Regions from separate parts of the Homo sapiens genome. Here region 2 is linked to region 1. The links come from fine-mapping of genetic effects on gene expression. A gene starts in region 1. The other region holds a variant in brackets. All regions are shown on one strand. Distances are between the middles of the regions. Region 1 holds the start of TMEM44-AS1 (TMEM44 antisense RNA 1). Region 2 overlaps TMEM44 (transmembrane protein 44).

Region 1 (4,387 bases):
GTTTTAAAAGTAATTTCCCGGCTGGAGTGGTGGCTTGTGCCTGTAATCCCAGTACTTTGGGGGACCAAGGCAGGAGGATCTCTGGAGCCCAGGAGTTCGGAACCAGCCTGGGCATCATAGTGAGACTCCGTCTCTGTATTTGAAAATGATAACAAAATACCAAGAAGAGATGGAAAAAGTAAATACATAAAAGCAATTTCCCGAGGACAGTGTTTTTCAGAGACTGGTCCTGGACCATCTGTAGCAGAATCACCTGAGGAGCCTGCTAAGCTTCCCAAGCCCTGCCCAGACCTAGGGAATCCTCCGGGTGGAGCCTAAGAGTCTACATTTGAGTATCAGGGCTTTAGGCTATACTGGCTAGCAGAAGGTAAGGCCCATGAAATGGCCCTTTTCATCCATGGCCATGCTGTCCTTGGGAAAGATGGTGGTGGCCGCCGTGTATGACGTCCCTTGTTCCAGCTGTGGGTTTAGAGAATCCCTCAGATTTCCTCTGGAGATTCCAGGTGCCAAGACACCTGTAGGAGGAAGGCCGGAAGGGAAAGGTCAAGTCCGGAGCAGAGGCGTGGACCGCGGCAGGCTGCTGTTGGAGCGTGCTGGGCTCAGAAGCCGGGTTCTAGCTAGGAAACTGCGGAGTGGCCAAGGAGTTCCTGGCGCGAGGCACGCCACACAACCCTCGGATGCGAAGACGGTGACCATCCATTTCTCAATACGCCAGTGGCCCTGCCGTGCTACTGAGCCTCGTCAGCCTGTATAATGGAAGCTGAAGATGATGCAGCTCAGGAAAAGCAAGTATGATCTTAAGAACCCTGTAGCTGGAAAGCATGTTCCAAATCAAACCTAATGGAGACAACTACTAGAAGGTATAAAAGTTTTTTTTTTTTTTGAGACAGAATTTTGCTCCTGTTGCCTAGGCTGGAGTGCAGTGGCGCGGTCTCAGCTCACTGCAGCCTCTGCCTCGCCGGTTCAAACGATTCTCCTGCCTCAGCCTCCCAAGTAGCTGAGACTACAGGCGCCCACCACCACGCCCGGCTACTTTTTGTATTTTTGGTAGGGACGGGGTTTCACCATGTTGGCCAGACTGATCTCAAACTCCTGACCTCAGATGATCCGCCCGCCTCACCCTCCCAAAGTGTTGGGATTACAGGCGTGAGCCACCGCGCCCAGCCCAAAAGATTTTAAAAAGGAGTCTCTTGGAGGCAAAGGGACAGAACATTATTGTTTTTCATCATAAACCTTTTGGTGCAATCTGATTTTCTTTTTTTAAACCATGTACTTGCACTATTTTTATCTCAAAAAAGGTTTTTAATGCATTTAAAAACAAAGAAAAGAATGGTTTATAATACACCGTTAGGCTTCTGGGAGGTCTGAAACACACTATGAACCGTAAAATAACCTTGTAATTATCTCCTTAAAAACCGAGTGGGGTGGGCCAGGCGTGGTGGCTCACGCCTGTAATCCCAGCACTTTGGGAGGCCGAGGCGGGCGGATCACGAGGTCAGGAGTTCGAGACCAGCCTGACCAACATGGTGAAACTCCGTCTCCACTAAAAATACAAAAATTAGCCGGGCGTCGTGGCGCGCCCCTGTAGTCCCAGCTATTCAGTCGCAGAAGAATCGCTTGAATTCGGCAGGCGGAGGCTGCAGTCAGCAGAGACCGCGCCACTGCATTCCAGCCTGGGCGACAGAGACTCCGTCTCAAATAAACAAACCAAAACTGAACTACGGAGACGCCCTCGACAGTTCTTTCCCGGCTGCGTCGCCGCTGGCTGAGGTCAGAAACGCCGGCCTTCGGCTGCGGCGGCGGCTGCGGCGGCGGGGCGGGGCCGCGGGACTCTCGCTCCTCGCGGGAGGCGGTGGCTGCGGAGTGCGCACGCGCGGAACCGCAATTCCGTTCTTCCCGGAAGTGCCCTGCTGGTGCTGGGAGTAGGGCGCAAGATGTCGGCGGATGCAGCTCCGAGGAGGTAGGCAGTGGGAGCCGGCGTTCAGTCCGGCCCGTGCCAACAGTGGTTCCTCTCTCCCCCGTAGTTCGAGGAGACCACGCGCTGCCCCTCTGGCACGATCGTGGATGAACCCCCTGGCAACTGAAATGGGAAAGGCAGCGCCCCCGACTCTGGGGACTGGACCGAAGTCCACGGTAGTGACAGCTGCCAGACCCTGAGGAGAGGACGAGAAGACCCGAGGCCTCTGCTACGAACACTGGCAGCCGATGGAAAATTCAGACGGATTTGGGACAGTATGCAGAGTTCTCCAAGCGACAGATTAACAGAGGCTCTTGAAGAATAACTGCGTAATCACGTGTTCTGCTCAAAAGAAGGCCTGAATGCCCAGTGCCTTATTTGGCTTTCAGGGTTGGTGAAAGAAAAAGCAAAGTAGATGCTTTCTAATGCTAAGTCATTTAATGTAGCACCATTCCTTGAACTTCTTTCATCTCTAAGGTCGTCCCTTTCACCTGATGATGACCTTTGGGCCATCGTACAGGCATGTGTAAACTTGGAGATCTTCCTCAACATTGCACCATATCTTGGGTTCATTCAAGGCAGAGTCTCCTTGCAAAAGCATTCTAAAACAATGTAAAGTCGAAGAGAGTAGAGCAATACCTCCATAGTTGGAAAATGTGGAGGAGGCCAATTAAGGGACAGAAAAAGAAGTGCAGAGAATCTTGGAATTGTTGCAAAATTATTCTGGAGATATTTCTAAGTCTCCTCTATCCTTTTCCTTAGTGATTAATACAGGTTTTTATATTAAGTGGACAGTAAAATCCAAACAGAAAGAGGTATATGTCGTATAATGAAGCCTATGTTCAAAGTATATCTGAAATTTGTTTTTATAATGTCTTTCTTGAGAGCTTATAAAGATGTCAGTATTCTGTGGGAAACAAATTGGCACATGCATAAAAGAGAAAAAATGAAAAAAATCAGGCCCAACTTTCAGTTTACAGATGAGGAAACTGTGACATAGAAAAGGAAATGACAAAGATCACACTGAATCAGACCTGGGAACTGGAGCCCAGCCATGCTCCTTGGCCCAGTGCCTCTTCTTATTCTAGGAGCTCATACCCCTTTGAAAGAAACATAATATGAATGTGTCTTCAAATGATGCTCATAAATCTCTTCATCATACTGAGGGAGGGAGATAAGGGGATTAGTTCTTCAGGATCTAGACAGGCTTTCAAGAAAATCTTTAGCTGGGTGCGGTGGCTCATTCGTGTAATCCCAGCGCTTTGGGAGGCTGAGGCAGGTGGATCACCTGAGGTCAGGAGTTCCAGATCAGGCTGGCCAACAGCGTCTCTACTAAAAATACAAAAATTAGCCAGGCATGGTGGCGGGAGCCTGTAATCCCAGCTACTCGGGAGGCTGAGGCAGGAGAATCGCTTGAACCTGGGAGGCGGAGGTTGCAGTGAAGTGAGATCGTGCCATTGCACTCCAGGGCAACGAGTGAAACTCCATCTCAAAAAAAAAAAAAAAATCATCATCATCATCATCTTAGCAGAGCTCTCGCTAAATGATAAAGACTTGGCAACTGATATCCTTTTTTTCAGAGAACTTAAGTAGAGACTGGATAATCACTAATTGGGGTTGTGTTTAAGGGCATTCAAACCTCTGAAATCTCTTCCATCTGCAGGTCTAATTATTTGGTTACTCTTTCAGTACATGTGTGCAGGAAGCATGGGGGGAAAGAAAACTAATCCCTCTCCAAAGTCTTCTTTGAATAGGTATTATGTTTGCATTTTCATACATGTTAGTTCACTTAGTCTTCACCATAGGCTTTCTAGGTTGGTATTATTCTTAGTCTACCTAAGAAGTTCACAAAGGTTAGGTGACATGCTCCAAGCCACACAGATGATAGGCGGCACAACCAGATGATACTACAGGTCTCCAGATGAGTGAGCCAATGATTACATAGTTTGTTCCCCAGCCCCTCCCCAGTGTAGGTAAAGTGCCTGCACTGCTCACTGGGTCATCAGAGCAAGTTGCTCCCACTGCCCTCTTGGTCTAACGGCTAGAAACAAAGCTGCAACAGAGGCCCACTCCTACTAGGAGACAGGCATTTTAATTGGCACCTCCTTACAAAGGCTCCAGTGTTCTAGAGCTTTGCATACAGGAAGATTCTCGTTGAACAATGAAGCCAAACCTCGCTTCCAAAATTCCCAGTTTGGTAGTTCACTGTGGATGAAGAGGCCGGAGACACCCTTAGACAAGCTGGGACCGTGATGATAGGAACCAGTTTGTGAAGGGAGGAGGCTGGGCTAACAGGATCTAGGGAGATAGATGATATCTGGACCTTAGGTAGTTCGTGTTACTCAAAGTCAGCAAGGTTTTTGTTGTTTTTTGAGACAGTCTTGTTATGTTGCCCAGCCTGGAGTGCAGCAGTGCGATCTCAGCTCGCTG
Region 2 (4,387 bases), 32 kb after region 1:
GCAACAAGAGCAAAACTCCGTCTCCAAAAAACAAAATAAAACAAAACAAAACAAAAAACCAAAAAAACCACAAGGAATAGAGTAAGTAGTTACATTGCAGTGACCACAAACAGCAAATGGGTCCTCGTGGCTTGAGAGGACTTTCTAGAGGCAGCATCACAAGCCGATTTCCAAAGGCTGGATCATGTAGCTGGGCATGACGACAGGCTCTGGAGCACCGTGTTAGGTGGTGGTAATGATGTGGATATTAAAGATGCATGTGAAAGTGGGAATACAGTTTTTGAAGAAATATGAGTGAAAATCACATAATTTACTTATGTTTTTGAGATGGGGTCTCACTCTGCAGCTCAGGTTGTAGTGCGGTGGCGCCATCTTGGCTCACTGCAACCTCTGCCTCCAGGATCAAGAGATCCTCCTGCCTCAGCCTCCTAAGTAGCTGGGACTACAGGCACACACCACCATACCCGGCCAATTTTTTTTGTATTTTTGGTAGAGACGGGGTTTCACCCTGTTGCCCAGGCTAGTCTTGAGCTCCTGAGCTCAAGCAATCTGCCTGCCTTGGCCACCCAAAGTGCTGGGATTACAGGCATGAGCCACTGCACCCGGCCAAAAATCACATTATTTAAAAATGAATATATTAAGGTATGTAGCATGTGAACTTAACTACCAGTAAGTAAATTATTCAAAAGCTTCAAGTGGGCATGCGACTATTCCATCTACATTGCTAAAAATATAAGCCATTAAGTGACCAAAAAACTTCAAAACATTTGTATAATTGCGAAACCGGAGGATCCTATGGCATTCAGGCTTCCCTTAGCTTTGAACATAGACAGTAGCTTTTTAAAGTGACCAACTGGGCTACGCACCACGGCTTATGCCTGTAATCCCAGCACTTTGGGAGGCCAAGGTGGGCAGATCACCTGAGGTCAGGAGTTCGAGACCAGCCTGGCCAACATGGTGAAACCCCATCTGTCTCTACTAAAAATACAAAATATTAGCCGGGCGTGGTGACATGTGCCTGTAATCCCAGCTACTTGGGTGGCTGAGGCAGGAGAATTACTTGAATCTGGGAGGCGGAGGTTGCAGTGAGCTGAGATTGTGCTACTGCACTCCAGCCTGGGCAACAGAGCAAGACTCCATCTCAATCAATCAATAGATTAAAAAAAAATAAAAATAAAGCGACCAACTGGGCAAGCAGGGAGGGACTTCTGGAATTCCCAAGCCCCGGCCCTCATGGAGGCTCAATGCCCCGTCCACTCCATGCCAGTAAACAGGAAGGGCCCGTTACATGTCATGTGTTAGGTTTGGCCACTATTCCCTCAGCGAGACAGGACAGCTGTCTGAGTCGCCTGCAGAGAACACTCGGCAGGCAGCTTTCACACGTCCGTCCGCAGTATCCTGCTGTTTCTCAAGATACTGTTGCTGGGACCAGAGTTTTCCAGCCAGAGAGACCTTGTCCTCGTTCCTCACCTCCTGGTTTTCTTCCTCTTTCTCTGCACAGGTCAAAAGGGCTTGGGTGTCAGGGCTCTCTCTGGCTTCCTTGGCAAATCCTAAGGCCTGTCTCATCTTGCTCTTCATCACACACGAAAGGAAAATAATCTGAGATGGTGTAAGTTAAGGTAGGAAGCAGAATATTCCAGCTGCCTAGCGTGGCCCTTCACCCCTCCACACCATGCTGCCACCCCCCTCCCCACTCACCTACTCTCCTCCCTCCCCTGTATTATCCTGCCTGGGACAGAGAGGAGCTCATCTGAAGACAGGGCTAGGGTGGATGTTCCTGTCCTCACGAGGGCCCAGCATCCAATGTGACCCTGTCCCT[A/C]ACAAGGACATGGTAAATATTTGCAAAACTAAAGCATTTTGGAAAACGTCTTTCTTGACAGGCCTGGCTTACAGTGACAATACATGCAGTGGGTTGAATAGTGTCCCTCAAAATTCAGATCCACCTCTGAATGTGACCCCCTTTTTTTTTTTGAGACAGAGTCTCGCTCTGTCACCCAGGCTGGAGTGCGGTGGTATGATCTTAGCTCACTGCAACCCCTGCCTCCCTGGTTCAAGCGATTCTCTCGCCTCAGCCTCCCAAGTAGCTGGGATTACGGGCACCTGCCATCATGCTCGGGTAATTTTCGTATTTTTAGTAGAGACCGGGTTTCACCATGTTGGCCAGGCTGGTCTCAAACTCCTGATCTCAGATGATCCTCCCATCTTGGCCTCCCAAAGTGCTGGGATTACAGTCGTGAGCCACCGTGCCCGGCCCAGACTGTGACCTTATTCGGAAGTAGGGTCCTTGCTGATACAATTAGACAATGAAGTCATAGTGGATTGGACTGGGCCCTAACTCCAACAGCTGGGGTCCCTATAAGAAAAGGAGACACACGAAGATACACAAAGGGAAGAAGGCCACATGAAGGGCAAGGCAGAAATGTAAACGACACTGCCATGCATCAAGGGACACCAGGAGCCACTAGCAGCTCCTGCAGCTCCACTGGCAGCTGGAAGAGGCAAGCGAAGATTCCCCTCTTAGCGCCTGCAGACGGCGTGGCCCTGCCTTGCCTTCACACACACCCCACCACCAACACGCCACAGCCATTAACCACAGTCAGCATCTAAAAATACAAACATTTTTAGTCTCCACTAAAAATAACAAAAATTAGCCAGACGTGTTGGCATGCACCTGTAGTCCCAGCTACTCGGGAGGCTGAGGCAGGAGAATTGCTTGAAATTGGGAGGTGAAGGTTGCAGTGAGCCAAGATCACGCCACTGCACTCCAGCCTGGGCAACACAGCGAGACTCCATCTCAAAACAAACAAACAAAAAAAGGAAACATAAAACTACAAATAATTGCATTTGTGTTTGCCTGCCCCAAGCTTCAAACCACTCCCTTACTGCTGGGAGAGTTCCATCTAGCAAGAGAAAAGAAGGGTGGGGCAGGGGCAGTGAGAGGACGAGACACAGGCCTCCTCTGGCTGCAAGCAGGGAGCTCCCCAGGCCTGGGGTGGATACAGCGAGGTCCAGTGCCGCACGGCCGAGGGAGGTCAGGAACCAGGGTGTGGCCCGCAGCAGGTACTCAGGGTGCTGGTCGTGGGCCACAATGGCCGAGGCATAGAGGAGGCCAGCCAGGGCCGACAGGAGCCGGGTCCACAGGTGGATGGAGGGAAATGTCTTCCCCCGGCACTGGGCAGAGAGAGGGAGGGGCTGGGCGGGAGAAGCAGCAGATCACAAGACCCAGGGCCCTCAGTGGCACAGCAGGTTGCGGGGCAAGCCCTCTGCCTGCAGCCAGTCCTCCAGGGCAATGCTTCTGTTAGACTTACAGCTTTTGCTCGAGTTGCTTCTTCTGCCTGTCAAACTCCTACTCATCCCTCAGAACCTGGCTTCAACTTAACTCTGGGAAACCTCCCCTTACCAACTCCACCCTAAGGCGAGCAAGCAACTCCCTTTTCTGGGCCCTAACGCATCCCTCCAGCGGAGTACCTTTGATTGATCATGACTCAGCTCTTTACACAGTCAGAGAGCTCCTGAGGGCTGGGCAGGGGTCCTCACCATCTCAGTGCCCAGCACCTGACGCTGGGCAGCGGCTCGCCAATGTCCGCTGGGAGAACGTGAGGGAGACTGGGATGGTTTGGACATTTGTCCCCGCCAGATCTCATGTTGAGTCGTAATCCCCAGTGTCGGAGGTGGGGCCTGGTGGGAGGTGGTTGGGTCATGGGGTGGATATCTCATGAATGGTCTGGCACCATACCCTGGGTGCTGTCCTCACGACAGTGAGTGAGTTCTCCTGAGATCTGGCTGTTCAAAAATGTGTGTGTGGCACCTTCCCTTCCACCCTCTTGCACTCTCTCTCTCTCTGCCTGCTCACACTTTGCCTTCCGCCATGAGTAAAAGGTCCCTGAGGCCTCCCCAGAAGCCCAGCAGATGCTGGCGTCATGCTTGGGAGCCTGCCAAACCGTGAGCCAATTACACCTGGTTTCCTTATGAGTGACCCGGCCTGAGGCATTCCTTTAGAGCAATGCAAGAACAGCCTAACACAGAGACCGGATCAGAAGAGCTGAGGCCCGGCCCTTCTCTCCCTGGGACCCCGATTCTGACCCAGGTCACATGGGGAAGATCCGAAAAATGAGAGATGATATTCTGGAAATTTTAAAGCCAAGAGGACATTTCTGGAGAATATGTAATAAAACTATTGGTTCAATAAAAGGAAATATGCACTATTTATATTTCTATGTAAGCAGCCTTTATATACAGAAAGTCACTATATATATGAATATGTATATACACAAACACCATATATTTCTGATTACATACTTATATATTTAAATATATATGAATAAAAATTGTAAATAGTTTATATTAAACTCATTAGATGAGTTATATATAAACTAAATTATAATTC

The links. PIP is the estimated chance that this variant, and not a neighbour inherited with it, causes the effect.
Region 2: its variant is the best candidate, but not a certain one, in a credible set for the expression of TMEM44-AS1 in testis (GTEx, PIP 0.57).

What each region holds. Positions count from the first base shown.
Region 1 is chr3:194,582,102-194,586,488 of GRCh38, forward strand. It overlaps TMEM44-AS1 (TMEM44 antisense RNA 1), which reads left to right and starts at 2,167. Exons shown (of 3, transcript NR_047575.1): 1 at 2,167-2,347. RefSeq lists enhancers at 1,433-2,098, 2,134-2,183 and a silencer at 1,684-1,943.
Region 2 is chr3:194,614,099-194,618,485 of GRCh38, forward strand. TMEM44 (transmembrane protein 44) reads right to left here. Exons shown (of 10, transcript NM_001011655.3): 6 at 3,001-3,171; 7 at 1,471-1,599. Among named protein-coding and RNA genes, the nearest start is that of TMEM44-AS2, 17 kb to the right of the region's middle. RefSeq lists an enhancer at 3,462-3,756. The variant A/C (reference allele first, on the strand shown) is at 1,820.